Linked DNA regions of Homo sapiens. The protein of the gene in region 4 interacts with the protein of the main gene of each other region in a biochemical or structural test. Each region holds a gene or a part of one and is shown on either strand. Other genes may lie near its edges.

Region 1 (7,211 bases), on a different chromosome or scaffold from region 4:
CGACAGGCCTGAGGTCTCTGCCCCTGGATTAAGCCTAGGGGGCTAGCGTGGCCCCAGAGCTTTCTAGGGAGTAGCTGGGGGATCAGGTAGGGTGAGGGGAGGGAATAGAGAGGTGTAGATTCTAGCAGTATTTCTCCCCTTCTCTGACCGCAACGACTAGAGATGAGTATTCATGCCACCCCCTCTGAGCACTCTAGTAGCTGGTTCCCAGTCAAGCTCTTTAATTGCTATTACTGACCAGATGACTTCATTATTACTGACCACCCCTCCCCCATGCATGTCCAGAATCCCGTCTCAAGCCTGTGCTGCCCCCTAGTGGCTGACTGCTCTAACAACCATGGCTCTGGATGGGAGGGGTTGGAAGCGGAGTTTGCAGAGGTCTGGCCAGCCCCGCCTGTATTCCCCGACTCCCCTTCCCTCCAGCACCTAGCCATGTTTTAAGGTAAGTATAAAGAAGGCCTCCCCCACCTCTTTCTGGGATTTGAGCATGGAACTTCATAAGGAATAGAGAGGCAGAGTCTCCGAGCCATAACCCTCCCAACCTCATATTTTCTCACCCCCTCTTTTAGAATAGACATAAATCTGAGAGATTCCCAAGCCCCTCGGATCCCAAGGACTGCCTGACAGGTCCTCCGCCCTAAGCCTCCCCTTGTCTCAATGCCACCTTCCCCTCCCCTGCCCTCCCCTCTCTTACCTAGTTTCTTGGCCACAGCTGCATCCTTCTCAGAGTCTACCAGCCCGAAGCCAACACCCTTGTCTTCTAGGACTTGGGCTGCTAACTGGAGGGAAGGATTATGATTAAAATTAGCCCCTGGAATTTTTATTATCCCCTATTCTCCCTCTCATGCTTTCAAGTTGGGTCAGTTGAGGTGCGGGAGATATAAGAGTTGACCTTGACCCTTTGCTAAGATCCAGAATATCCCCCAAATTCCCTACAGCCACACAGTTCTGTTTTTGGCTCAACTTAGTTCATGAATATTGATTGCTCATTTGCAATGTGCTTATTATGTTGGACTTGAAGACACTGCACTCAATACTTCCCAGTGCCTAAGAGGTACTGAGGAGTCTGGCTTCAGAGTGACTGAGGGCCCCTTCCCTCCTTCAGGGTTGAGTCCTGCATTCCATCCTGCTCAAGTCACACCTGGAGGTCCCTGTCCCTGGTCAAGGGCCAAGCTCAGTGTGGGGTTGATCTTGGAAGTCCCTGAGATTCTTCAGAGTGACTCCCAATGGGAAGAATTTTGGAGGGTGGGAGGGTAGTGGTGGGTCTGGTCATGTTGTTGAGGAGTTGGGGAAGGCCAGAGAGCTGAGATAAGAGGTCACCATTTGTTACCCCCCAGAGGGAGAGAGACTGACAGCGACCGGACAGTTCTCCCCATCAGGGCCCAACTTTCCCCTTTCGCACTCTACTTCAGCCTGTCCTTAGGCTGTGGACAGTCACACCTGGAGGTCCCTGCCCCCATAAGCCTTCCAGCTTAGCGTTCAACCCTGATTTTCTCTGCTGTGGGCACAGCTTGCAGCTCTACCCCCACTCAGCACAGACTCAGGTACTGTGATTCTCAGAGGGGTGGGGAAGGGAGGCGGTTGGCAGGTGGATGGCCAGGGATACTGAGCACTCAGGATAAAAATACTCGGCTCATTAATCAGATGGCAGGTTCTAGCACCCAGCAGGGGTGCACAAAATGAGAGCCTGTGGTTCTGGTGTCTCACCCTGAAATGCTCCAAGCTCTGGACAAGCTGAGGCCAGAGAAGGGGCCACAGGAGCTTGGACAAGAAAACTCACATCCCATTTCCTAAAGGTGTGTGTGTATGAACACATTCCCAAACATAGGTTTTTTTTCTTTTCTTATGATAACTTCTTTCTCCTTTGGGCCTGAAGTCATTTTGGAGGTGAGGAGACTTTTCCCACAAAAAGAAGATTGGGGAAGACATTCTGACACCTCCTGCAACCATAAGAATTTTCCAGTGAGGGCATCCAGCTTATCCAATGGAGACAAATGGGGAATTAGGGAGGGGGAAGGAAGAGAGAGGGGACTGGGAGTCCAATGGGAGGCATGATCTCTAGGAGATATTTAAACATGGCATGCAAGTATCATAACATTTACATTTACACTCAGTTTGGATCTCTTTGGGGTGCAGCCCCTGAAGTATGTGGAGAGGACGTGTTCTGGCTAAGCAGATGGGTGGGGTAGGGGAGTGCAATATACACTGCTGTTCTCCCCTGGCCCTCCAAGTACCTCCCTTTTTCACCCTCAGTGTCCTAGCCAAACCTAAGTCAAATACTACCAGCCTCCTATAGCAGGGAGGGGAGCTCTTCCTGCAGCACCCCTGCTAAAGGTTTCCTGACGCTGATAGTACTTTTGGGTTCCTGAGACTCTGTTTCTCATTTGACTAAAGCCACATGCCACTTGCATCCTGTTGGTCAGGACAGGGTTCCTACCACACTGCCCCTCACCCCCAGATCCCATCCTCAAAGAGCTACATGGGTGTAGGATAGGGGATTCCGGAGAGGGGCTAGACATGCTCTGCAGGCCTGCAGTGCCCCCAACTCACCTCCAGGATCAGCTCCTCCATCTCAAATTGTCTTTGTGAGGCCTTGTCATCCTCGGGGGGTTCATGGTAGAGGAGTGCCAGCACCTCATACTTCTTGAACACATTCTTGTAGTTCTTTGCATTGACATTGATCACACGGTCCACACCATCGTACTCAGGGAAGTCCAGCCCTTCCTGCCCCTGTACCCCTGACTTGGGTGTCCCTAGCACCAGCAGCAACAGCAGTGCCAGCCGCAGACCCGGCACAGCTCTGGGCCCCATCCTGTCTGTAGCACTCATGGAGGTAGTGGGATCTGGGTTGGCTCTCCTGGTCCAGAAGAGGTTAGCTGGGGTAGGGAGGGGCCCCTGGGTCCCAGATTCTGAGTTAGGGGCTCAAGTGGGAGGGGGGATTGGGGAATGGCCCAGAGCAGTGGACAGAGGGCACTGCTGGGTCCTGGAGAAACTGCCGACAGAGCCAAGGGAAAAAGGGTCAGGTGGAGGAATAGGAGCAGGGGGCGGGGAGGGAACCGGAGCTGCCCCCTGAAATTGGCACCCCTCAGTCCCCACCTGGTCCTGTCTAAATATGTCTCCATGGTTGGCAGGAGAGACGGATAACCTTCTGAGGCCAGGACAGCTCCATGCGGGCCGGAATCCTCCCACCTCCTACACTTCTACCCCAGGCTCCCAGGGGCTCCTTCCCTCCCCCTCCTCCAGTGTCCAGGGCACCTCAGCCCCGGTCCCCACACTGGCCTAAGAGCTCATCGCCATATTAAGAAAGGAAAAGGAGAGATGCCGGAGCTAAAAATAAGACCAGATGAGTCGGAGGTAAATGAAGCTGGGGCTGGGGGAGGGGAGGTATAAGGGTAATTAGGGTGGGCCGAGGGTGGGGCAAGGGTAATTAGAAGTTAAATGCAGTGGAGAGGAGGAGCTAACTGGGTCAGAGGCTAAATTGATAATATAGGACAAAAGGGGGACAAATGTGGTATTGGCTCTATGTCCTAAAGCCTGGGAATCTTCTGTAGGTGAAGTCTGATTCTGATTCTTTGATACTATGTAGGAGAGTGGGGCGATAAAAGTGCAAGCCAGGCTGCAGGAAAGAGACCCCCTCCACTTTCTTTTAAAGAACCAGGACCAAGGATGAGGTCATTCTCTGAATAAAAGATGGAGCCGCGTCCAAGACTGGCAACCTGGCTCAGCTCCAGCCAGTTTCCTTTGCTTCACTCAGCACTCCTAACTTGGGAATGCAGGGAAGGACAGGGCTGGCCCAGATCCTGTCCTGTAGAGATGTGGGTTTGGGGTTTCTCTGCCTATAAAGCCCACAATGAGAAGGGGTCTGTCCTTTGGTTGCCACCTGTGTGTGCACTCCCTACCCTGATCCTATGGGACTCGGTTTTCTGGGGCACAGTGGGAAGGGAGGTTTTCCCAGGCTGCATGCTTCCAAGGAGAGTGAATAGCTACTATTTATTCCCATGTCTTTGACAAGACAAAGAGGATCAGGTATTGACACCAGGGCAAAAAAAAATTAACATTAGGCAAGCATGAAGAGGTGAACCCTGTGCCCTGAACCAAGACTGATGATTAATTCTGTGCACCCGAGATCCAAAGCAGAGATGGGCGGGTAGGGGCTTAAACTTCTGGATCCAGCTTGGGGGGTGAGGACAGAGTAGTGAGTTTAACTCTGGATACGTAGGAAGGAAGGATCCTCTTCATGGCCCTCCAGGGTTCTTACTATGCACAGGTAAACTGAGGCATGAGGGAGACCATAGAGGGTCAGATCAAAGTCACATGCTGCCACTGCACCCTGAGGTATCTCTGATTCTAGAGGGACAGTGGTGTTTTTTTTGTTTTGTTTTGCATCCAGGGAGGGTCATGTAATTATGTTAGCAGAATAACTTTTCCACATGTCTGTGTGGTGGACCTTACACAGCTGAACACGGAAGGCCACAGAAAATCTCAAAAGCATGGCAGGAGTGAGGCCAAGAGGGACAGCTGTCACTGTAGCAGGAGAGGTTGGAGCTAGCCTAAGCACAGCACGTTGGAGCTGAAGAGACCTCAGAAGCCCATATCCTGGTCTCCCTGAAGAGTGGCTAACGTGGGAAAGCCCCAAGGCCAGAGCAAAGGCAGCCAGGTGAGATGGGGAGGCCTGCCCAGAAGCAGATGATCTAGGTGATGTCCAGCCCTGATTTCTCACTTCTGCATTCCAGGGGAGGCGGGAGACACTGGGACAGAGACGCTGGAGCATAAAACTTGTTCCATCTTGAATCTGACCTTTTGTACCCCCAAGAGTATGAGATGGGACTCTGGTGGCGAGTCTGTTCCATCTCCTGGTCCTTTCCTACAGCTACCGGACATTGCCATCCATCCCGTTCCCTCTCGTTGCCCTCTCTGGCTCCAGTCCCACCCTTCCCCTTTCCAGCGCCCGCCCCCACTGCTCTCTCTTGATGCTTCACTCTGTCTACTTTCTACTCAGTCTCCTTCCCTTCAGGCCCTTGGACTTGAGAAGCCTCAGCCACTGGTATCAAATGACCGTGAGTTGGGGCCTCTGTATTTTTAACCCACCAGACACCTGAAGCTCCTGCTACTGAAACCTGAGGAGCTGGCCCCTCTGTGCTCCTGCTTCCCACCTCACTCACATATACCCTGGCCCACTGATCTTCCAGGGTCTGGTTCAGCGATGTCAGCAATTGGGGAAGGACCCCAGGCTGATATAGCACTGTTCCTAGGAGACCTTGTGATGGAAGAGGGAGGAGAAGAGGGAGAGAGACCTCTGAGGAGGGGCCTGATGTAGGGAAAATGGCGGGCGATACTCACGATGGCCTTCTCTTTGCTAGCTCATGGCCTCTCATCCTCCAGACCCACCCCGGGTCCTTCCCCATCACTAGCCTATTTTTTTTGTTTGCTTTGTTTTGTTTTTGTGTATTTTTGGCCCAGCCCTCACTGAAAGACTAGTCTGAAAGTGATTAAGGGCCCACGTTCTGAAAATGGACAGACCTTGGTTTCTTCTTGGGTAACATGGAGTGGGTGGTAGGGAAACATTTATGTGACTTTCTTGATGGTGTGTATATAAAACCCTCGTCCCAGTGTTAGGTGTAGTGTGCAGACACCTAGTACATATGTGTTTTGTTGTGGAAATAGCTGATGGTGTTCCCCTAGCTTTCGTTAGCATTTCTCTTCCACCCTGTACACATTTGGGAACAGCCAATGCTCTACTCTGAAAGAGGCCTGAGAATGAACTGACCCACATGGCACAGTGGAGGGGCTCACAGAGCAAAAGTGAATGAGCGGGTGAAGGGGAAGGAAGAAATGCTGAGACGAAGGTGGGCAGGAGAGAAAGGCCCTCCACGAGTTTTCACTCATCTGAGAATGCACCTGGGCCCAGGCACAGAGGCCAGGCTCTTGGGAAAGTCCATCACCCCGTGCAGAGCAGGGGCGGCTGCTTCACAGTAAAGGCCACAGGGATTCAGAAAGTCTTGTTACAGCCTCTATCTCAAGGCTACACCAGAGAAAACAGGCCGAGGGCCAGAATGGGGTTGAGGAGCCCTGATGACCGAGGGTAGAGGGCAGGGACCACCAGTATGCCTGGAGACTGTCCTTCCTACCTGTCCCTTTCTCAGATGAGGGACAACACTCAGCACATGGCCATTCCCAAGTCATTTAACCTCTCTGGACTTCAGGCTTTTCACTGATGCAATCTGATCTCTTCTAGCACCACAGCGCTGTGGTCTGCAAGCTGGTCTCAGGAACTGCAAGGTGGGGTCAGATGACTCCACCCCACCTACCCCCTGTGCGGATGCTGTGGACCCTCTTCCCACGTGTGACTTAGCTGCTCCTCTCTCCCCCACCTTCCATTTCTCTGATCTCAGCTGGAATTTTGAGGCAGTCATTTGCCCTGTCCTTGCTGTCCAGTGGCTCGGAGAGTGACTTTAAAGGGCAAGGATGCTTGATACTGATCCTATCCCAGCCTTGACTCTGGTCCTTAAAACACTTCCCCAGCCTGGTCATCATGAAGACCTGTGGAGGGAGCTTCACAGTAATCCCCACTCCCCCAAGATCAGATTTGACACATCCAGCTGGTGAGGGCTTTTCCAGACATTTACTGTCTAGACTGGCTACGGGATTCAGCAGGACCATGCCCCTCCCTGCGGGGCTCCAGCTAGATGCAGGCTGGGCTTCCCTTCAGCCCACCTCATCCTCTGCCCATGATTCCCTCAAGCCAGCCCAGGATTGCCCATCTTTCTCATCCAAGATAATTCATCCTAGTGTCTCAGATGTTGTGTCAAACTTATAATCTCTGGCCCCATCCCAGCTCTCACAACACCCCTGTGTCACATGAAGCTCTTCATCTGCTGAGTTTAGTAGTACGTCTCCCTTTCCACCCAGCCTGTGGAAGAGAAGAGGCCAGCGTGAACTGGGAGAAGGAATTAGAGGCATCCAGGGGAGACAGGCAGAAGGGAAAGCAGGGACAAGGTTGGAGGTGGGAGGTCTGGAACACAGGGCACTGAGGGTCAGATGGAGCAGAGGGGTGCAGCCAAGGGGTAGAGAGGTCTCGGCTCCAGGCGCAGTCAAGGCTGGCAGCGAGGAGGGGAGAAAGTCAGTGGTGGGTCTGGAGGGACTAGGTGGGATGGGAGAGCTAGTGAGGGGGCTGGTGACCACTCAGTCAGAGCGGGGCCCAGGGGAGCCTC
Region 2 (7,804 bases), on a different chromosome or scaffold from region 4:
ATAAAAAGTGTCAGAAGCCGCCTTAAGCTGCGAGGGGGAAGGGAGCTGCCTCCCCTCCAGCTATTTGTCCGTGGCTGAGACCACACTGCCTGTTGGATGGACACTGGGAACTGCCTCCTCTTTTCCCCCTACCCCCTAACAGCCACAGCCCTGGAAGCTGACAGACTATTTTTCTTAGTGCAAGTGTGGGGTCTAGAGGATTAAGAGGACAAAATAGATGTTTTGACCATGAAGAAAGTTTAAAGGCATGTTCGCTCTTTCCACTCATGGACTTCCCGGAGCCATTTTTTCCCTTGATGCTGCGCCTGACAAGTATCTCAACAAAGGCCCGCCCCTTCCTCAACCTTCACTAATGGAGCCCAGGCCTCCTCCTCAGTTTGCACTTTTGCATGAGCAGCGCCTCCAGGCCATGTACTTCTCGGCCATGCTGGTGTACAGCTGGCATCATCAGACCCGGGTCCAGAGGCTGAGCAACTCTGTTTAAGGAAGACTCTTGAAACCATCTTAAACAGGCTACCCAGAAGCCCCTTGGGCGTTTTCGCACTGATTTCAGGAGTAGTACCGTGTAGGTGTTACGTACAACTGCCTTCATCTGTAGTAGCTGTGTGACCTTGGACAACTTAGCCTCTCTGCTTCAGTTTCCACATCTATAAAATGGAATTGGTAACTGTACCTACTTAATAGAATTATTGTAAGGATTAAACAAGCTAACACATACCAAGTGCTTAGAACAGTCCCTGCACTTAGTAAGCATTTAATCAACATTATTATTATTTAATCATTTCTTAAGCTGCATGATAGTTACTATTTTTCCATATTTATAGATAAGAAAATGAAGCTCTGAGAAATTACGTAATTTGCCCTGTGTCCTGTGCCTAGTAGAGACAAAGCCAGAACTTAAATCCAGATATCCTGACTTCAAGGTCTGTGTTCTTTTTCTCCTAATGATGCCTCACTCCAGCTTTAGCAGCCTGAGGGGCATCAAATTAACTCCTGTGGTGAACTTTTCCTTATCGGTCTCTGCTGGGCCGGCACCCACTGTGAAAAGGGCACTCTTGGATCAAAGGTGTCTGGAGGGATGGTAAGCCCAGGGGAAGTTTCTGTTCATGATTTTGCATAGTCTTTGGGGACAGATATACTTGGGGGAGCTAGAGATGATAGATAGATAGATAGATAGATAGATAGATAGATAGATAGATAGATAGATAGAAGGATGATAGAAAGATATTTCTTTTTTAAAAAAAATTAGAATCAGAAATGAATGTCCTTGCCTGTACTGGCCACCCAAAGGCATTCTTTTGGAGTTCTAGGCTAACTGGACAGCGATGAGCATATAGGGGAGAATCCTTATGCCTTCAATTAAGTTTTCATAACAATGTCTCTTGATAACTGAGTATGGCAGTTTGAGATGGAGATATAATGTAAGTGTTGGTTTCATGTGCTAAGCAGCAGCTAAGTTCTATGTCTCGTTCTTTTCCAGCCTGTGATTTGCTCATTTCTATAAAATAAAGTCTTAATAACTATCCCTGCTTTCTCTTTTCTTGCAACCCACAGAGAGAACTGAAATTCCACATTCAGCACCCAAGGTTGGAGATATACTTTTGATGTATTTGGGATAGTTTTGCTGGATTTTATTACAGTCAATTTTTCAATTTGAAAAAATTCAAATCCACATGGGTTTTATATGATAATCCTATTAAACTATTTCATCAACCTGAGTTCTCTGATTGTGCTGGTTAATAAACTGTAATTCTCAAATATCCCTTTCACAGGTTTGCGCCTGGGCTAGGCGTGGAGACTGATGAGGCATCTTGGTGCCCACTAGCATTCTTGGCACCCTCAGGCCCTCTTAAAGTGTAAGCCATCTTAAGCTGTCCAGGAGGAGCTGCAGGAATAGTTTCTGGGGCACTCGCAAAGGATTAGAAAATGGGCCCCAGTGCCAGGTTACAAACAGGCAGGCCATGTAATGCGGATAAAATAAGAACTGACTTCAGCTCTGCCCTAAAGTCACACCAAGAACTTTCTGAGAAAAAAAATCACATAAATGAATATGCTGCTCAGAAGATCTGCACACAACTACATTCTGTAATGCTGACTGACGCAAAACAAGAGAGAGGAAAGTCATTTAGTGATATTCTCCGTCTGACCCCCAGAGAGACGCAAGGTCAAGTAACTCTGGTCTCTCCAGGATCATGGGGAGATTTGAGGGAGCAAAGTGGGCACACTGAATGAAATCCACAAGTAGTCCCTGGATTTCATTTCAGCCAACAGTTTTAACAATAGTTTCTACATTCTATCTGGGAAACAATGGCTGGGACAAGGGCCCTTGAAAAGTCAAGGGGGCCATAAAGACTTTACATCAGACCCATCGTAGTGTAGCACGTTTGGTCCTCTTCATTTGAAGAGTTAGGACCCACCCCTCATTGTTCACACATCCCAGCTGTGTGACAAGGGCATCTGATTCACGTGAGGCCAAAATAAAGCAGAGTTCAGTATATATTCTCTGCATCCTCGTTCCCATATCCCAACCCCTGGCCAAAGGCATTCCCTCGGCACCTCACTGAGGCAGCGCAGACAGCATGCCCTTTGGTTACTTACCTCAAGCACGATTTCTTTCAGTTGGAACTGTTTTTGCGTGACCTTATCTGAAGACACCGGCTCATGGTAGTAGAGGCAAAGCAAGTCATATTTCTTTAAAACCTGCTTGAAGTTCTTCTCGGAAAGACTTACCACTCGGTCCTTCCCATCATATGTGGGGAAATTAAGCCCCTCTTCTGCCCTGCAAGAGGACAGAAAATAAATCCCCACAATAAACAAGTGAGTTCTCTTCATTTGGGAAAACTTTTGTTTCTCGTTCCCAAATATGCTGTGTGCAGAATAGAGGACAGAAGACTGTTAGAGGCCTTGTTGAGCCAAGGAGAGAGCAGACAGGCTGATTTTCTCTCTTCTTTGCCCTTCCTGGGGCTGAAAAGTGACTCTTCACCTCCTTGGGTCCAGCCAGCTCTGGAATCGTGGGCTCAGGACAAAGAGCAGAGGCACACACACACACACACGCACGCACGCACGCACGCATGAGAGTAGAAAAACAGCCAAGCTAGGGAGGCTGGGAGGCCAAGCCCCAGATACCTTACATAGCTCTGCTCAGCCTCTGTCTCATTAGGAACTCCATTTTTAGGATGCAGTTGTTTCAGGCTAAAAATAAATCATGCAATGAATAAAAAAGTTAGATACGACACTGTAGAGGGATTCGCTGATACAGTCTGTCCGACTGGTGAAGAGGGAAGAGGCAGAAGGAAAAAGACAAGAATGTACACGCATGAAATAAGGAGGCTAGAAAGGTCAAAGAAGAGAAAGAAACTCGAGAGGGAGAGAGATAAGGGACTATGGTGCCAATAAGCAAATGGAGAGTTCAAACATACGGAATGACACTCATACATTACTGAATTGTTAAATCACCCCAGGGTGGTAACTCAGCCTGTCCCCTCACGGTGGTTGTTCATCCTCTGTTCCTCACTGCAACATGGAACAAAATGGAGCCCCGAGGTAGACTTCTTCATGTTCTACTCCTGTCTTTTTCTGCCTTCCCTCCTCTCTTCTTAAAAATCCTCTGCCAGCCACTGGGCGAGGGGTGCAGGGACACCCTGCTGAACCCAGCTGACACCAGAAGAACCTGTCCTCATTAAACTAAAATGAAACAAGGTTCACAGTTCAAATCCCTACTCTGCCTTTTAACAGCTAATGAACTTTGGAGGGTCACTTGCCCTCTCTGATTCTCAGTTCCCCTCTATGTAAAGTGGGGCTGATAATAACCATAAAGTTTCAAACACATAGATGAAAAAGCATGGCACAAAATAGGTGCTCAAAAATAGTAGCTATTATACTTACTTCTCATTGGAGCTGGTGGAACATTGGTTATATAATGGATATTTGTCTGTTTCTAATATGAATGGTTTGTGAACCCTTTCTTGTCCATTTTCTCCTTGAATCCAGTAGGCAATTGGGGCAAAAGGGATCAGGGCTCATCCTACCGCTGAGCTAACAGCAACTTGTCTGAGTTTGCAGCATTTCTAACTGCCGGAGCAAGAATCCAACCCTGCCTCAAAGCTGCTGCTCCTGGCTGTTTTGCCTCTGACTCTGGGTGATTCCCTTGCAGACACCCCTTTTCTTAAGTACCTTCTTGACCATCTCTTCCAGTCCAACCCTAGTCCAGTCATGTCTCTCCACTCTTCAAAGGCATCTAGGGCATTCATGATTCTGACCAAGTTTTTGTTCTCCTTCAGTTATAAATCAGCTTTGGAAAGACAGAGTACTCTGTCATGCACAGCTTCTGCAGGGGCTAGAAGGCAAAGAGAAGATCCGTGGCCTCTCTGAGTAAAGCAAGGCTCCCCTGCAGTCAGACGGCCTTACACTGAGAGTCAGGCTGATAAGGGGTTGTCTTGATGCTACACTCTCATGTGCAGAAAGTTGGGGCCTTGAAGAACCCATCACTAAAACCCTTGACGGTATTCCGTTCTTTCTAATGGTGTAGTCTCTAAGTTTTCAAAAGATGGAGCCAAGAATATCCATTCTAAGGTGCACTTAGCTTTCCAAGTCAGTGGCAAGCATGCAAGATCTCTGCTTTCTTTAGGAAATTTAAGGGGAAAAAGATTTCCGAGTGAAACAATGTGTGTCTTGTCTTTTTGAGGTCAGCCTCCCCAGACTGTTCCCAGTTGTCTCGATCTCACTGGGTTACCTTTATTTAGAATTTGCTCCACTTTTCTTAATATGTAAGTAGGTTTTTTTTAACTGTTACTGAAAAATTGGAAGCTATTTAAAGTCAGAGTCTTTTAATTTCCTTCTGACTTATAATTGACAAAACTATAAGGGAAAAGAAATAATTTTTTAAACTTTAGTTTAGCCTTCAACTCTGGTTTACTACAAAAAGCCCGAGCTGTGGAAAGTTCCTGCCCCTAGATCATGGACTCGATTTGGGCCAGGCAGCCCAGCCCTGAGGACATGCAGCCACTGACATATGCTGTGGTGATCAGGTTTCCCCCAAGCATCCATGGTAGATATGAGGTCTACATTCATGCCCCACTCTCAGCAAAAGGTAGGTTTTCATAGTTTACATTTAACGTACCAGGCTTATTTTCTGTCTGCCTTTCATTTTCCTATTTTTGTTTTTCCTCTGTCTTATTGCTCACCAACTTTAATTTTTTTTTTTTTTTTTTTTTTTTGAGATGGAGTTTCGCTCTTGTCGCCCAGGCTGGAGTGCAATGGCGCGATCTCGGCTCACCACAATCTCCGCCTCCCAGGTTCAAGCCATTCTTCTGCCTCAGCCTCCCGAGTAGCTGGGATTACAGGCACGTGCCATCACGCCTGGCTAATTTTGTATTTTTATTAGATACGAGGTTTCTCCATGTTGGTCAGGCTGGTCTTGAACTCCCAATCTCGGGTGATCCGCCTGCCTTAGCCTCCCAAAGTGCTAGGATTACAGGTGTGAGCCACCAGGTCCAGCCAATTCATTTATTTTTTAAACAAAGAATGCTTCACACATTTCTGAGTCAACCTTACATCCTGCAAATCAGCTGTTTTGTTCCAGCTTTAGCTGCGCCCCAAGCCAATGTGTCATGTACTTCTAGTTTATGTGGTTGTGCTGAAATGTGTGCATTTTTATGTGCCATTAGTAGGTACTTTTTGTTTTGTTTTTAAACAAGAAGGGGTAGAACAAAACACACAAATCAATACAAATAAATGTTTATTGTTGTCACAATATATGCCGTAGGCCCCTTGTTTTGCTAACCATTTCCAGTCCTTCACTGTGAGTGGCCGCCAACTACAGTCCCTTAATCTAACCTAGCTCATTTACTTTGTTTATTCTTGACAGGTGGCAGAATGATTTTTCTCTCAGACCATTTTATCTACAAAGAGAAACGTATGTGCTCACGCCTCCCTTCGAAGGTCTGCAGGTCTCCATTTGGGCGCCTCTGAGGTGCCTCAGAGAAAGAACCGCCCCCAGAAAGGCAGGAGACCTGCGTTCCGCCTGCCTGTGTGATTAGGTCAGGAGCCCTGAGGCTCGGGCCCTAGCACTTCCAATTTGTGAAAGAGGGTTAGAGTCACCAAGCTCCTAAGGCCCCCTTTCTGGCTCTAAGATGTTAAAATCTGTTATAAGATTTTCTTTTACCAGGATAGGCCTCAGCCCAACACACAGTGTGATGAAGTCTGATGAGTGTTAGCTGCGGAGGAGGGTTTTGATGGGCGTGACTCCGGACGAGTCCAAGCTTGCCTCTTCTCCAAGGCAAAGATCGCCTACAATGTCACTGCTGCCAAAGGACCCTTCTTTGGCTAAAATACTCCACCCAGTGGACAAAACAGAAAATGGCCTATTTCTTTGCTCCCGTTCCTGGAAGGAAGCACAGCCTATTGGCCTGGTAGAAAGAGTGCAGAAATGCTCGGGTCTAGAGCCCTGTGCTCCATGAGCCTCCAGCATCCTCTGGCCAGATCTAAACAAGCCTGTTAGCAACCCCAAGGCCCTCCTTTTCTCTCAACTTTAACAGGTGGTCCCTGGAGCCTTCCTGCCTCCTCTGCACCAGGAAACTCCTCAACAGAAACGAGCAGAAAGAGATCAATGCTATCCTGAAAAAGAGCCCCAAAGCTCCACCGATATGATTCCAGGTTTTGACAAATGTCACCTACTCAAGGAGGCCCTCAGTGTAGACCAGGAGCGGACACTCACTCCCCTTACACACTATACTTCTCCTTGGAAACACTCCTCTCACGGGAGATCCTTCTCCCTCTCCCCGCTGAACCTCATTGCTTCAGGGGCAGCATCTGTTCACAGCATCCTCATAGCAAGTAGTAGTTCTCATTAAATGCTTATTAAATAAATCTGTAGCATTACTTTGTGTCCGGGCCCGGTGGCTCACGCCTGGAATCCCAGCACTTTGAGAGGTTGAGGCGGGAGGATCACCTGAGGTCAGGAGTTTGAGACCAGCCTAGCCAACATAGCGAAACCCAATCTCTACTAAAATACAAAAAGACAGGCATAATAGCACCTGCCTGTAATCCCAGCTACTCGGAGGCTAAGGCAGGAGAATCGCTTGAGCCTGGGAGGCTGAGACTGCAGTGTGCCGAGATTGCACCACTGCACTCCAGCCTGGGCAAGAGAGTGAGACTCCATCTCAAAAAAAAAAAAAAAAAGCCAGGTATTTTAACAGCAGCAACAAGAGAAGGAGAGACAGAGAGAGAGAAGGAAGGAAGGAAGGACAGGGGAAGGAAGGAAGGAAAGAAGGAAGGAAAAATTTAATTCAGTAGACAAGAACAGATAAATGGAAAGCTTAGGGCTACTTTGTCCTGGAACTAGGGGGGAAATACAGGGTTCTCAGGGGTAGCAGTAAAAGAACAGAAAAAAAAAACCCTAATATGGAGGTCATATCAAAGGGTCCAAATGGAGGGTATGGTAGGCGGAATAGTGCCTTCCCATTCCCCCACCCCCCATCAGGATGTCCAGTATAATCCTCAGAACCTGTGTGTGTGTGTGTGTGTGTGTGTGTGTGTGTGTGTGTGTGTGTGTGTGTGTTGTCTAATATGACCAAGGAGTCTTTGCAGATGTGATTAAATTACGGATCTTGAGATGGAGAGATTAGCCTGGATTATCCTGGTGGATGCTTGTGAAACAGAGGCAAGAGGGTCAGAGTGAGAGAAGGAGATGGAGGATGGAAGCAGAGGCTGGAATGACACAGGCCAGCAGCCAAAGCATGTAGGCAGCCTCTAAGAGGTAGAAAAGGCCAGGAGAGGATTTTCCCTGAAAGCCTCCAGGAGGAAT
Region 3 (7,793 bases), on a different chromosome or scaffold from region 4:
TGGTTAGATGGAAACTCTAACGCCACTTGGGAGGTACCCGCCCCTGGCCCACCCCTGCACCCTGGACGCTTCCCCAGACTCTACCCTCTTTATCTCTAACACTGAGCTCTGTATCTGCCCCCCAAACCAGCCTCCCCTCCCCTCCCCTGCCCCTGGTTTCCTTCCTTTCCCTTTTTTTCCTTTTTTTTCTTGAGGCGGAGTCTCTCTCTGTCGCCCAGGCTGGAGTGCAGTGGCGCAACCTCAGCTCACTGCAACCTCCGTCTCCCGGGTTCAAGCGATTCTCCTGCCTCGGCCTCCTGAGTAGCTGGGATTACAGGTGCGTGCCACCACGCCCGGCTAATTTTTTTGTATTTTTTAGTAGAAATGGGGTTTCACCGTGTTAGCCAGGATGGTCTCGATCTCCTGACCTCGTGTTCCGCCCACCCTGGCCTCTTAAAGTGCTGAGATTACAGGCGTGAGCCACCACACCCGGCCCTGCCCCTGGTTTTCTATCTCAGGGCGACCCCATGTCTCCCTGTCAGGGTGGGCTCAGGTGCTCTCTCCACCCGCTCTCTGCCTATTCTCCCCCTAGCCTATCAGCCCCTGTGCCATCCCTCCTTCCCCCGACTCTCTTTGCCACAGACCCCTGTCTCTGTCCCCACACCCCAAGATGCAGCTTGGGTCTTGTCCTCTCCTTCCTGGACCACTGCCCCAGCCTCCCAGCCTTCAGTCTGTCCTCACCTCACATGCCTGCAGAAGGATCTCTTTTCTTTCAGAACTGACCCTGGCCTGCCCTTGCTCTGAGCCCTCCCACAGCACCACCCCAGGGCCCCTGGGACAGATTCTGGGGACACCTTGGTGGGTGGATCTGGGCTGGGGACATACATTGCAGAAGGAGCAGTAGCCACACAGGGACCCTGGCTGGTAGTTCCCATACTCCTGAGCATCCTGTGGACCTGCGGGGACAGGAGGGCAGCAGTGACCCAGGCTGACTCGGTTCCTTCCCACCCACACCAGCCCAGGCCACTTACCTGTGTCCTCACCGCTTTCCTCCTCGCTGGAGGCACCTCCAGCCTCCTCTCTCCTGTCCAGTGGGTTGGGGATGATGGTGAAGCGGGGCTCATCTTCCTCCAGCCCCTCCTCCTCCTCCTCTTCCTCCTCGCTGTGGTCTGGGCTCAGTGGGGCCCCAACCTCAGCCCTCTCTTCCCTCCTCTCCTCGTCTTCTTCCTCCTCCTCCTCCTCCTTGTCTTCCTCTTCTTCCTCCTCCTGGTTCAGGCTGAGGCCATGACCTTCCTCCTCATCCTCCTCATCTTCCTGGTCCCGGCTGCCATGATGGGTGCCTTTCTCTCCCTGCTCTGAACTTTCATCGTCTTCCTCATGGGAGCCGGGGTCCTCTTCCTTCTCCTTTTCCTCCTCAGAATCATCCTTCCTCAAATGGCTTCTATCCTTGACCACTGTGTGTCCTGGGGGGTGATGGCTCATCTCTTTGATGGACCCTCTTTGACCATGGCCAGTTTCTTCATCTTGGTGGCTTTGCCTGTGGCTGGGGGCCTGGTGGCCAAGCTCAGCAGAGACCTCCTCATCTTCCTCCCTGGGGACTCTGTGGTGGTGATGGTGAGGGACTTCTGTTTTATACTCATCTTGGAAGTCCTCTTCATCACTCTTGTGGCCTCGAGGTTGGTGGCTTGCAACATAGTGGCCGAACTGGACTGTGATCTCCTCTTCTTCCTCTTCCTCATCTACAAGGCCATGGTGGACATGTTGGGGACCCTGGTGCCAACGTTCAGTGGACACATCCTCATCTTCTTCCTCGTCTCTGTGGCCTTGGTGCCTGTGGTCAGGGACATGATGGTGGTGTTCACCTGAGACAGCCTCAACCTCTTCCTTTCTGTGGTCTTGGTGCCTGTGGGCCTGGTGTCCATACTCAGTGGAGACATCATCATCATCATTGTCATCTTCTTCATGGCTTCGGTGCCTGTGGCTGGGGTCGCGATGATGGTGTCCATCTGAGACATCTTCATCCTCTTCAATCCCGTGGCCTTGGTGCCTGTGAGCCTGGTGTCTATATTCAATGGAGACATCATCATCATCATCATCATCATCATCATCATCATCATCATCGTCATCTTCTTCATGGCCTTGGTGCCTGTGGCTGGGGCCATGATGATGGTGTCCATCTGAGACATCCTCATCCTCTTCACTCCCATGGCCTCGGTGCCTGTGGGCCTGGTGTCCATACTCAGTGGAGGCCTCCTCTTCCTCCTCCTCCTCCTCCTCCTCCTCTTCTCCTTCATCATCTTCCCCATCATGGCCTCGGTGTCCATGCCTGAGGATATGATGGTGATGCTCACTGGACACAACTTCATCCTCATCCTCGTCTTGATGGCTGTGGCTCCTGTGGCTGGGGAGGTGGTGCCTGTGCTCAGCTGAGTCTTCCGTGTCTTCACTCCCGTGGCCTCTGTGCCCACGGGCCTGCCCACCATGCTCTGCAAAGACCTCCTCACCTGAGACACCCTCATCTCCGACTTTGTGGTCTTGGGACCTGTGGCCTGGGAGTAGGTGCCCATATTCCTTGGAGACATCTTCATCCTCCTTTTCACGGTCTGGGTGGCTCCAGAAATGATGCCCATTCTCTGTGGAAACATCCTTGTTCTCATCTGGATGGTCTCTAGGGCTGTGGAGGTGGTGGCGAAGCTCTGCTGATGCCTCCTCGGAGAGCCCGGCGACTCCAGTGCTGTTGTTCCGGTTTCTGAAGCCTAGCCCATCCCCTCTGAGCTGCTGGGTCATGGCCGGGGGGAGGAGCAGGCTGGCCACCCCAGCCCAGAGGACAGAAGCGTGCAGCCATGGCCTATGGTGGCCCATGGGGACGGACAGGCAGCACTGGCTCCAGCTGCCTCTGCGGCAATGTGGACAAACGTTGGGGTCTTTGTCCCTTTGGGGTTGGTCTCTTTTTTTCTCTGTGTCTCTCCTTTGTCCTTTCGGTCTCTGTCCACCTTCCTCTGGTCCTTGCTGCCTGGCTCTGGACACCCCTCTGAGGCTGTCTCCGGAGCCCCCTGACCCCCCTCTGGGGCCCTCCCTCCCCATTCCCCAGCCAATAGGGTCCTTCCCCTCCCCTCTCTCCAGCTAAATTTACTCTCAGCCCTGAGTTATTCTGGGTCAGTCCCCGCCTGCCTGCCTCCTGCTCCTCCTCCTCCCAGCTGGGGAGGGGACCAGTGAGGGGTCTCTCCCTGGCCAGGAGACGGTGGCCAAGGGACTTGACTTTGAACTACCAACAAGCTCACGTTTGGCAGCTGCAAAGACAAAGGCTAGACTTTTAGCAGGTTTTTGGGGGAGCCTGGGGCACCTGGGGGAGGCAGAAGAGACTTATCAGAGGGGAGAGACTCCTGGGACGGAAGGACTGGGGGTTCGATTGCGGGGTGTTTCCAGCTGGAATGATACGTGCTGGTGAGAGAGTGATGTCAGTATTGAGGCCCTAGAATGGGGGGAAAGGAACATGGCCCCCAACACACGTGCCCATGACCTCCTGTCCCTGGAACTCAGATCTGGGGGCAGGGACTGGGCTAGGCCAGGGCTATAAATACAGCTGGGAGGGGTAGGGGGACTCAGGTTACGGAGGCCACAGCTGTCCCCATCACAGAGGGCTGGCAGGAGACAAGTGGCCTTGCCCGTCTCTGTGTGTCAGTATTTCCTACTCCTCACCCTTCATGACTGCCCCCACTAGGGTCTCCTTTCCTGTTCACGGGTCCTCCTCTCTCTTCAATTCTGTCATCTGCTCTCTCAGGGTCCCTGTCCCTCCTCCATGGGATTGCCTCTCCCTCTCACTCTGGGCTTCTGTCCCACTCTTATCTTAGTGTCAGTCCTCCCCCAAGTCTGTGTCCCTCTCTCTCCCCTAAATCTCTGGCCCCTCCTTTCTGAGTTCCTGCCCTTCCCCCAATTCTTTGGTTTTTGCATCCCCCTCTGCCCCTTGCCTCAGTCAAGGTGTCTCCTCCCCATCTCTGGCATCCACCTCTCTGGGTCTCTGTCCCCACTCTCTCTCAGAGTCTCTGTCCCCCTCTGTCTCAGAGTCTCTGTCCACCTCTCCCTGGGTCTCTGTCCCCCTCTCTCTGGGTCTCTGTCCCCCTCTCCCTGGGTCTCTGTCCCCCTCTCTCTGTGGATCTCTGTCCCCCTCTCTCTGGGTCTCTGTTCCCCTCTCTCTGTGGGTCTCTGTCCCCCTCTCTCTGTGGATCTCTGTCCCCCTCTCTCTGGGTCTCTGTTCCCCTCTCTCTGTGGGTCTCTGTCCCCCTCTCTCTCTGGGTCTCTGTTCCCCTCTCTCTGGGTCTCTGTCCCCCTCTCTCAGGGTCTCTGTCCCCCTCTGTCTCAGAGTCTCTGTCCCCCTCTCTCTGGGTCTCTGTCCCCTCTCCCTGGGTCTCTGTACCCCTCTCCGTGGGTCTCTGTCCCCTCTCCCTGGGTCTCTGTCCCCCCATCCCTGGGTCTCTGTCCCCCCCTCTCTGGGTCTCTGTCCCCCTCTCTCTGGGTCTCTGTCCTCCTCTCTCTCTGGGTCTCTGTTCCCCTCTCTCTGGGTCTCTGTCCCCCTCTCTCTGGGTCTCTGTCCCCGTCTCTCTGGGTCTCTGTCCCCCTCTCTCTGGGTCTCTGTCCTCCTCTCTCTCTGGGTCTCTGTTCCCCTCTCTCTGGGTCTCTGTCCCCCTCTCTCTGGGTCTCTGTCCCCGTCTCTCTGGGTCTCTGTCCCCCTCTCTCTGGGTCTCTGTCCCCCTCTCTCTGGGTCTCTGTCCCCTCTCCCTGGGTCTCTGTCCCCCTCTCCGTGGGTCTCTGTCCCCTCTCCCTGGGTCTCTGTCCCCCCCTCCCTGGGTCTCTGTCCCCCCCTCTCTGGGTCTCTGTCCCCCCCTCTCTGGGTCTCTGTCCTCCTCTCCCTGGGTCTCTGTCCCCCTCTCTCTGTGGGTCTCTGTCCCACTCTCTCTGGGTCTCTGTCCCACTCTCTCTGGGTCTCTGTCCCCTCTCCCTGGGTCTCTGTCCCCCTCTCTCTGTGGGTCTCTGTCCCCCTCTCTCTCTGTCTATCCCTGGGTCCCTGCTGCCCCACCTTCTGATTCTCTGTCCCCTAAGTCTTTGTCTCCCCCTCTTTGGGTTAAATTGTCCCCTCCCTGTCTGGCATCCTCCTTTCTGAGTCTGTTCCCTCTCCGCCACTGGCCCCCAACTCCTTCTGTTCCCATCTCGCGCTTGCCCTTGGAGTCTCCCCTGTGTGTCTCTCTCCCCCCGGCCCGGACCTCTGCACCCCCCAGGTCGCTGTCCCTCTGTCCCCTTATCGCGGCCTGGGACCCGCCCTCTCCCCGCCTCCCGCTTTGGCGTCTCCAAGACTCCCCGCCCCCCAGACCTCGCCCCGCCCCAGGCTAGGCTGGAAAGTGGAGGATCCGGTTTGCTCTGGGCGGGTCTGGAAGCAGAGCCGGCGGAGGGAGCGCCGGGGCCCTGGGCTGCAGGAGGTTGCGGCGGCCGCGGCAGCATGGTGGTGCCGGAGAAGGAGCAGGTGAGCGCCGGACCAGGGTCTGCGGGAGCGCGGAGCTGGGGACCTCGCCTCCAGGCTCCCAGAGAGGAGGGCGCTGGACACCCAGATTCCTGGGTCAGACGGAGGAGGGGGATGGGAGGGTCCAGGTTCCAGGGTCCAGGGCATGGGGGTCGAGACTCCTGAGTCTGGAGCGGGAGGGCGCTGGGGGCCCGGACTCCTGTGTCCGTGGGGAGCGCACGGGGTGGGTGGCTCTGTGTCCCATAGGACAGAACTGGGTGCCCTCTCACCCCACTTCCACCCCTACATTTGTTCCTGTCCCCAGAGCTGGATCCCCAAGATCTTCAAGAAGAAGACCTGCACGACGTTCATAGTTGACTCCACAGATCCGGGGTGAGGAGTTCGCCCCTGGACTGACCCCAGAGGGTCCGCGGCCCGCTGACCCCGCCCGCGGATGGTCACGCCCCAGCCCTGCTCCTTCCCCATTCCTGGACTCGGGGACCTTCCCAAGGGCGTTCCTTGCCGACGCTCTCCCTCTAGGAGCGTTTGGGTCTGTGTAGACACCCCTCATTCCCCATTCGCCATTCTCCCGCTCAGGGTCAGTGTAGACGCTCCAGGGCTCGGTTCTGCTTCTTTCCTCCCCGATGTCTCTTCTATGTGCTTCTGTCTCTTCGTGTCACTTTCTGTGTCTCTGTCTTTCCCTTTTGGGTATTTCTGTTTCATTCATTCATTCATTCATTCATTCATTCATTCATCCATCCATGCAAGAAACCCTCACTCAGCGCTCCCAAGGTCCCTTTAGCCTAATTCAACGGCCCTGCCAGGGTTCCAATTTCCCCTGGGACACGTGCTGTGTGGCTTCGGGCAAATCATTTCACCTCTCTGGGTCCCGTTTCTCATCTGGGCATCAAAAGAGGCTTGATCTCCTGGGGTTATTATGAGAATTAAACAAGTTAATGCTTGTGATATTCCTGGCACAGCGCCCAGCACAGGACGCTGGGAAATATCTGCAGCTCCCACTGGGAGGTGGCAATTATTACCGCGGGCGGGCCCTGTCTTGGTGGCCGGGGACACCAATTGAGCTAGATAGGGTGTGTGCGTCCGCGAGGAGCTCCCGCCCTTCAGTGACGGCCTCTCAAGCGGATCCAGGCTTTCTAGTTTTTTTTTTTTTTTTTTTTTTTTTGAGACGGTGTCTCGCTCTGTCCCCCAGGCTGGAGTGCAGTGGCGCGATCTCGGCTCACTGCAAGCTCCGCCTCCCGGGTTCACGCCGTTTTCCTGCCTCAGCCTCCCGAGTAGCTGGGACTACAGGCGCCCGCCACCACGCCCGGCTAATTTTTTGTATTTTAGTAGAGACGGGGTTTCACCGTGTTGGCCAGGATGATCTCGATCTCCTGACCTTGTGATCCGCCCGCCTCAGCCCCTCAAAGTACTGGGATTACAGGCGTGAGCCATCGCGCTGGGCCAATTTTTTGTATTTTTTTTTTAGTAGAGACGGGGTTGCACCGTGTTAGCCAGATGGTCTCGATCTCCTGACCTCATGATCCGCCGGCCTCGGCCTCCCAAAGCGCTAGGATTACAGGTGTGAGCCACCGCACCTGGCCCAGGCTTTCTAGTTTTTTGTTTTTTGTTTTTTTGAGACAGAGTCTGGCTCTGTCGCCCAGGCTGGAGTGCAGTGTTGCGATATCAGCTCACTGCAACATCCACCTCCTGGGTTCAAGCAGTTCTCATGCCTCAGCCTCCCTAGTAGCTGGGATTACAGGTGCCTACCACCATGCCCAGCTAATTTTTTGTATTTTAGTAGAGACGGGATTTCACCCTGTTGCCCAGGTTGGTCTTGAACTCTTGATCTCAGGCAATGCACCTGCCTTGGCTTTCCAAAGTACTGGGATTACAGGTGTGAGCCACCGCGCCCAGCCCTCTAGTTGTTTTTCAAGACAGTTTTTGGGGTGCGGGAAGTATCCACATTCCTACTTCAGTGTGTATTTTGTTATGACTATATATTAGTGCAGTATGGCTTGTAAATGATGGATAAATAAACAGATATGCGCTTGTTGGACGTGAGTGCTCAAAACCTTTTTACTGATAGGTCAGTGTGGTCAAGACAATTTAGGAAACTCTGGTCTGGCCTGAGGAGGAAGAAACGCAGAAGATAATTATAGTAAGGCAAGGGGTTGCAGCTCCCAAAGACGAGCCACTGGGCTCTGTGAGAGCTGGGAGGAGGTGTTTGCTTAAGACTGGGAGGGGACACAAAATGTCACTAATGGTTTCTGGAGGGAGGAAGAGTGGCTAGTGAGGTGACATTTGAAAGTGAGCTGGAGAGAGG
Region 4 (7,569 bases):
ATGAGCCTTGTCTTCCCAAAACTTGAGATGAGAACAGTTAACTAGAGCTTTCTAAGGTAATGAGTTATCTCTTATATTCTTAAGTGCCACAAACTGTTTTGTGTGTGTGCGTGATAAATGGATGGAAAAGGTAATTGATTGATAGGTGGCATAGGTCTACTGATAGAGTGCTTACATTTCAGTAATGTGTCCAAAAGTGATTGCAAGCCCCAGGCGTGATGGTTCTTGCCTGTATTCCCAATGTTTTGGGAGGCAGAGGCAAGAGAATCTTGGCTTGAGGCCAGTAGTTAAGTACAGCCTGGTCAACATAAGGAGGTCGTGTCTTTACAAAAATAATAATAAAAAAAAAATTAGCCAGGCATGGTGGTGCACACCTGTAGTCCTAACTACTTCTGATGCTGAGGTAGAAAGATTGCTGGAACCCAGGAGTTTGAGACTGCAGTGAGCTATGATCATGCCACTGCATTCCAATATGGGTGACAGAGAAAAATTCTGCTCTAAAAAAAATAAAATAAATAAATAAATGGTTGAAAAAAATATAGCAGATGAGATAAAATAAGACTATTTCAGGCTCAGAAAATAGCCTGTACCAAGGCACTGTACAAAGGTATACCTTTTATAAAAGACTGGAGGAAGACAATTGTAGCTAGGGCACAAAAGGTGAGAATTGCAAAGATAACATGAAACTGTGTAGTAACAAAGTGTGAAAAAACTTTGGATATCATCAAAGAATGACTGTGCTTCCTTAAAAGATGAGTTCATTTGAGTTGGCAGTCTAATTTTCATTTGAGAAATATTATTAATAAATCATTCCAGAAAACAAAAAAAAATGCATAATTGATGTTCAGATAACATAGATCCTATGAACTGTTAAGGCCCGGAAGTGGAAAATGACCATCACCCAAGAATTAGATGGTATTTCTACTTTTTAATTTTATTACTAATGTAATTATTTTTATGGGTAACTCCAGAAGGTCTTCCAAGGCCCTTTTAAACCCCCGCAGAGCAAAGGCAGAAACAAAAGCTCTATTTCATAATCAAGAATTTTCCTGTAAAAAGTCTTTTGAATCAAATGCAAGTTCTACAAAACATAATCCACAAGCAAGCCCAAGATGGTTTAGTCAACTGACCTCCTGAATCACCTGGGAGCCCAAACCCTGAACAGAGGTAGAGAAACAGAAGATTAAGACGCTCGTAGCTATCTTAATAACTTGTGCAGAGCTAAACAAGAAGTTTTTATACATAGCTTTCTTTAAGGCAAACTAAAAGCAACATGACACAGAATATCTAAGGAATAGGAAAAATGCTATTTATATTTAGTTAGCAAATTCTGAACTAAAATTGGTAAAGAGTAAACCTGATATCCTCTCACAGAAAAGAAAACACACACACACACACACACACACACACAAACAAGATTTAAAGGGGCTGGGTTTAAATGTTGGTAATGCTGGTCTTGAGCAAGTCACATAACATTTTAGTTACAGTTCCTTTTTCTGCCAAACTGAGATAATAATGCCTACTTAATTGAATTGTGTCAGTTTTAAATAAGTAAACACACATAACGTTCTGAGCAAAATACCTAACACATAGAAATCTCTCAGTAATTGTTATTAATACGAGGTGTCAGACTGAATTTCTCAGTGCAAGGTACAAATAAGGCACTTCTTATAAATATTGACTAAAAATCTCCAACAGAAATTACTGTGTGTCCATACTAATTTCTACCCTCAAAAATAAAAACAAATATTCTATTTTTCAGTTGTATTATTCAAAGCAAACCAGCACAGCATTTAACTTGGAAGTTGTTAAGAGCACCACCTGTCTGATTTTCTTACAGCTGTCAGAAGCAAATTTTAGATCCACCTCCAAAAGTTTTACCTCAACTAGAACCAGACTGTGTCTGTATTCAAAGTAATTTAGTTTTGAAGGTTTCCTTCATTCTAAGAAATACGTACATATATATATGAAGTATATATGAAATATAAATATATATAACTAGCAACCATCAAATAGAAGATATGTATTATAGTATGTAGCTTTCAGTAAAGCATTGAAACAGAAAATATTTATTGTAACATAAAGATAGAATTTACCATTTAGAGGAAAATGAAGAATGAATTTACAAAAAGAACCAGAATTCTAACACTTAATTGCTTTATTTTAAAAATCATACTGATTCACAGTAAGTTTGTGGAATTCCAGTCTTTATCTCTGAATTTCCATTAATGGTCAAATAAATACAAATTTTATGGGAACACTTATGTCTTAAATTGTATATAAATCATATATATGTATGTGTGTTTTACATACCCTAGTAGGAAAGGAAAAACAAATTTAAGGTCTCCATTTAAAAATATCATAAAGCAGAAATGCTTCAAATTACTTTTTAAGTTTAAGTAAGCATTAGTGTAATATTTTAAGTAAGCATTAGTGTAATATTTTAAGTTCATCATGGTCTCCATCCTTGAAAACTTTGTAATTTTTGCTGGATAAGATATCGGCCATCATGTTACATGACCATAGCTATTTATAGAGGTGTGAGTAACAACTGTTAACTAGTGGGGCCTTTGGTATAGCAGAGAACAGTTTCCACATGCAAAATTTAAGAGAAATCTCTTTTTGCTCCCCCAATATACAGATCTGGCAGCCTCTCAGCTCCTAAATCCACTTCTCAGATCCTGTATAGAATCATTGACCAAGGCAATTACCTTAAAGCAACATTTTAAATGGACACATCGACAGTTAATGTGGCTGTCGATTTGCATATTTTTTTTCCTTACTTGATACTATCGGAAAATGGTAGCAATACCTTCAGCAGTGATCTCAGTCATGGTGGTCGTCAAAAGTAAAAGTCAGTTGAAAAGTTCCCGTCAAGTTGCACTTTGCAGAGTATTTGGGGATTTGAGAACTCTGGTGGAGGGTTCTGTGTCAAAACCTGGGGGCTCTTCGTTTTCCTGGCTGTTTCTGCTGCTTCTTTGTTGTCCTGTTGAACTTTGCCTCTCCTCTGCAGAGTTCTCCCCCTGGAAACAACCTAAGCCCTTTCCAAGCAGCACTTGTGGCTCAGCTAGAAGTATCAGCTTCAAACAAAAATAGCCTCATCTCCCTAGGACTCTTCAGCACTTTTTTTTTTCTTTTTTGGCACTCTAGAGGAACACACACACAGACACACCAGCTCTTCAGCCCCAAAGAGAGAAAGGCAAAAAACAAACAAACAAACAAAAAAAACCAAATGAACTACAAAGTACCATCTAAGCCCCCGCAGTTTCTCTAAGATAATTACAGATCCTGGGGTCTATGTCAGAAAACATGAAATAAAGAGTTGAAAGTAATCTTATCCGTGAGAGCTCAGATTTATTCTTAGTGCTCTTAATGCTCAGAACATTCTTCTTTCCCTTATTTGGTTTGGGGAGGGTCCCAAATGTCTATCACAGGCAAAAGGGAGGGTAGTCTTGAGTAATTTTCTAGAAGTTATGTTCCTGTTGATACAAATCCACTTAGCAAGTGCAGTTATTTATATAGGGCTACACTTAAAATTGCAACTATTAAATCTTGAAGCTTTCTTTTAAAGTAGTCATATTGTAGAAGATTAATATTTTCTGAACACTGGCCAATAAGAATTATGTAATGTGAATTTATAGTGTGATACTTGAAAAACATTGGATTGATGAATTACTATCTTTTTAATTCTCTCTACTACCTTACTAAGAACTAAATACCTGCATTTATCCATGCAGTAAAAAGGAAGGGAAGGTGACATAAAGTTTAGTAGTCCACAGCCAATATTTAAGTAAAGTATTTCCTTATCTCAACTTAAAAAAAAAAGGATTATAGCAGCCACTAACAATTAACCAAATTGGCTGATTAGCATTTCACCTTCCCACTCCTAGACAGGTGTTAATGAGCAAAAAAATATTCAATAGTTGGTAGTTGGAAGCAAAAGGAGAATCGAAGGGCATTGATAATCATAAACTCTAGCCAATCTGTGAATAATCAAGGGTTGACTACACTTTTATTTTATTCTCATATTCAACCTAATAAATGCTTGTAGTTTAATCTTTTAGCTTGAACTTGATACTTTTCGTTTTCAGACCTCCCGAATTCCTATGGTACTTCATAGATCATGAAGCAAAGCCATGTTTGTTATTTTTAAAATTCAGGCTCAGAAGAGTGCTGCAACAGCTATTTCCATAGGCAATGACCTCCTCCCTGTTAGTGGTTCTGTCTTAATCTACTGCCCCCATTCCTGACACAATAGAAAGTTGCTCATTTACCAGCTGAATACATAAATTAGTAACAAATCTTAATTTACAAGGAGGAAATGATTACATGATTACATTCATGATTTTATTCAATTCCTATATCTAGGACTGGGCCTAGAGCCTTTTAACTACAAGTTTGCTATCTTCCCCAAGAAATGAGGCCTTGTTGCAGATACTATGACTTAAGGTAAAGGGGGTCACTGCAAATTAGGCCCACTAGCGGGATGAAAAGATACAAAATCCTCAAGAGCAGCTTCCCAGAGCTCTGGGTTGGTCTAAGGAGGTATCCTAAGAGAAAAGCCCTCCTTACATTGCCCCCCACAAAGAATCTCCAGTCAATAGTGCCACAGCAGTTCCAATTGTTTTGAAAAACGTAGCACTTCATATCTCCATTCATCAGTTACTTTCATAATCTTTCATTGTAGTTAACTGAAGGAATGACATCTTATGTAACTCATTAAGAATTTTCATGGGTCAGATCCTAAATAAAATTAGGCTCTGGAACAGGAAAAAACTCAACTTTTCAAACTAGTTTTACTCAATAAAAAGTTAAAATAAGACTCTAGAAAAGAAATACTAAATTCCTAGTATTGATGTTAGTCTTAAGTTCCCAATCACTATTTTCATGTTAAACATACTGGAAGGAAAAATAAAAGAAAACATATTCTAGACAATAAACATGTTTTGAAGATAATAGCTTTTTCAAACCTTTCTGTGAGATGAGTTGATGAATGTCATTAGGCAGTGAGAAATTGGCATGGTTCTCATTTTGAAAAGTTATTAGGACTCTTTCAATTTATCTGAAACTCCATTCATGAGGTATGTCTTTGAATTCCAAATGGAACCCTGCCAAGCTTTCTGAAACCAAGCAACTGACATTCTTACAAGTGTGTACACCTACTCTTCAGGGAACTCAAAGAATAAAACATTACAAACGATTCATTTGCCCTTCTTTATTTTTAAAGGGTCTTCATTTTTAAAGAGATGTTACCAGTTCATTGAGCTCTTTCAAAAGGACCCAAAAGTGATATTTCTCTCTTCTCAGCAATAGCTCCTGGAATAACTCTCACATCCCACTTCTGCACAATCAGCACAGGTAGACTTGTCATAGTTTTGCATACAGGGATATTTATAAAATTAGGACATTAATAACTGAGCTAGTCTATATAAGTAAATGATAAACTGTGAAAATTTGTTCTCCTATTAATGTCGCATTTAGGTCAAGGGGCATCTCCAACCTGATTATACTGATCATTACCCCTTGTAATATTCACTAGTTATTCTAAATACTCAAGTTAGTAGATAAAAATATTCTCCCTTAGAGAAATTTTTAAACCTTGCTCCTGTGTCTGCTATTATCATAAACACTCAATAAGACATGTATTCTATTTAGCTATGAGCAAAATACTGTCATCCACACCAAGTTTCAAAATGGCAAAATATTTGGGAGGCAATCAGAGAAGTTTTGTTGATTTGTTTCCACCATAATAAAATAAAATTAATTTTTTAAAAAAAGTCAAACCATACTGCATTACCTCTTTCAGTGCTGATTTGTTTTCTCTATGATGTGCAAAAAGAGACATAGTTGGGTGTAGATTGGTATTTACCATTACTCACTTATTTTCTCAGAGACTGGGGATATTTGAGAGAAAGTAAATTTTAGAGTTTATTGTCAAGGCTTTCTGTTTCTTAATTTACAGACACAAGTGGCTTATACACTTTGCTAACCTACCCACAAATTGGTGGTAAGTGGAAATAATGGAAACACACTTTGTACAATATAGCATGTCTAAACAGAGTGCAAATAAATGTGTAGGATGTACAATTGGGAGAGAAAGAGCTATTTACTTGGATTTTAAAATAATAATTGCCATAACTTCCACATAAACCTAAGGTTTCAGGTTCATTTTAATAGGAGACAAAAATAACCAACTGGAATGATTTCAACAAAGAGAAGGAGAGGGCAGAGTATCATGATGCAAAAAACTTCCATAATTAAGAGCAAACAAAATATAAGCTACTGTTTTAGTGCCTCAGTTGAAGTAGCTCACAAGGGAAAATAGACAGAAGTTTACTTTCAGCTTTGTAGGTAAAGAAAAACTGGCAAACACAATTTAAATTTGTAAAGAATAAATGTTGGCTTTTTAACCCTTGAAATGAAGAAATATGGAAGAAACTAGGAATAGTGGAAGTGAATGTGAGACTATTTGCCTTCATTTGACCTTGAGATAACATTAAATAACCTAGAAATTTCTCTGACGCTTACATTTAATAAACTTAGAATTCAGAATCACAAGCAAAGCCTCTATTGAACTATTATTTCATTAATCTTACTTCATCTCAGCACTGTTGTTCACTTCGTTTTAAATTGTTTTGTATTCTATTTGTGTCACGGAAAATATCGTTCTGCCCTCATTACTATCTCTAAATGGCCTGTGCTCATTTCTTTAATCAAGGTTGAAAGTCATTCCATAGGTTTGGCTTACCATCTGATTATTTAGAAACTGTGTAATCCAGATCGTTTCAAATGACAGAAGGCATTCCAGTGCAATTAAAAACCTTCCTCTCTTTAACTCTGACTCATGAGTAGCTGAGTCTCCAATATCAGGCTTCTTTCCTCACACACATTTGACATTGTCAAACATTCTCTTAGAAATTTTTCTGTCAATCTGGTTTTTAGTTAACAAAGGCCATCGCCTTTGTTGCCCCTTCCTTCTTAGAGATTCCATTCTCTGAAGAGCTGGCGTCTGTCCACTACCATTATCCTGTTTAAGAAGATCTGCAGTATCCTGCAGTAGTTGGTCCCTGTGGAGTCCATAATTCAGATTACTGCTTTCTATTCTGCAGTCGATCACATATGACCTTCAGTCTGTGTTCCTGGTTGCTGTTCAGAAGCAATTTATCATTTATACTTTTTCTATTTCTTATAAAATCACAAATGCTTTTCTTATAAAAAATAAAATATCTGATAACCAATTCTTAGATACAAATTTTTTTCTTTTAAATAATTTAAATGGATATTTCTATTTCTAATTTTGAAAAAAATTATAATGTCATCTTGTTCTTGGCATTTTGCTATTTCACATTATCAACAATGTGATCTGCTGCATCTGGTGTATCATTACTAAATACCTCCAAGAGTCACCAATTTTGTGAGCTTACTTATTAATAATGATGCAACTTATTAGTCCCCTTCTTCAATAAATCTATATTAGCTATTTGCTCTGGGCACTAGGCTAGGTTCTAGTGAAACAAAAATTAAGACAGGGATTTTTTTTTTCTTCAAGGAGTTTATAGTCTAGTAAGA

What was found.
Region 1: the proteins of TRDN (region 4) and CASQ1 form a complex in vitro, tested with the Homo sapiens proteins (one study listed by BioGRID).
Region 2: the proteins of TRDN (region 4) and CASQ2 form a complex in vitro, tested with the Homo sapiens proteins (3 studies listed by BioGRID).
Region 3: the proteins of TRDN (region 4) and HRC form a complex in vitro, tested with the Homo sapiens proteins (one study listed by BioGRID).

What each region holds. Positions count from the first base shown.
Region 1 is NC_000001.11:160,186,370-160,193,580, reverse strand, and holds the start of CASQ1 (calsequestrin-1 precursor), read right to left. Parts: upstream 3,007-7,211; 5' UTR 2,830-3,006; coding exon 2,551-2,829; intron 780-2,550; coding exon 695-779; intron 1-694. Other genes in the region: ATP1A4 (sodium/potassium-transporting ATPase subunit alpha-4), read right to left, coding at 6,882-6,910. UniProt on the Homo sapiens protein: Calsequestrin is a high-capacity, moderate affinity, calcium-binding protein and thus acts as an internal calcium store in muscle. Calcium ions are bound by clusters of acidic residues at the protein surface, often at the interface between subunits.
Region 2 is NC_000001.11:115,765,710-115,773,513, forward strand, and holds the start of CASQ2 (calsequestrin-2 precursor), read right to left. Parts: upstream 3,006-7,804; 5' UTR 2,833-3,005; coding exon 2,599-2,832; intron 1-2,598. UniProt on the Homo sapiens protein: Calsequestrin is a high-capacity, moderate affinity, calcium-binding protein and thus acts as an internal calcium store in muscle. Calcium ions are bound by clusters of acidic residues at the protein surface, especially at the interface between subunits.
Region 3 is NC_000019.10:49,152,397-49,160,189, forward strand, and holds the start of HRC (sarcoplasmic reticulum histidine-rich calcium-binding protein precursor), read right to left. Parts: upstream 3,001-7,793; 5' UTR 2,842-3,000; coding exon 1,011-2,841; intron 936-1,010; coding exon 865-935; intron 1-864. UniProt on the Homo sapiens protein: May play a role in the regulation of calcium sequestration or release in the SR of skeletal and cardiac muscle.
Region 4 is NC_000006.12:123,633,942-123,641,510, forward strand, and holds the start of TRDN (triadin), read right to left. Parts: upstream 3,010-7,569; 5' UTR 2,835-3,009; coding exon 2,813-2,834; intron 1-2,812. UniProt on the Homo sapiens protein: Contributes to the regulation of lumenal Ca2+ release via the sarcoplasmic reticulum calcium release channels RYR1 and RYR2, a key step in triggering skeletal and heart muscle contraction.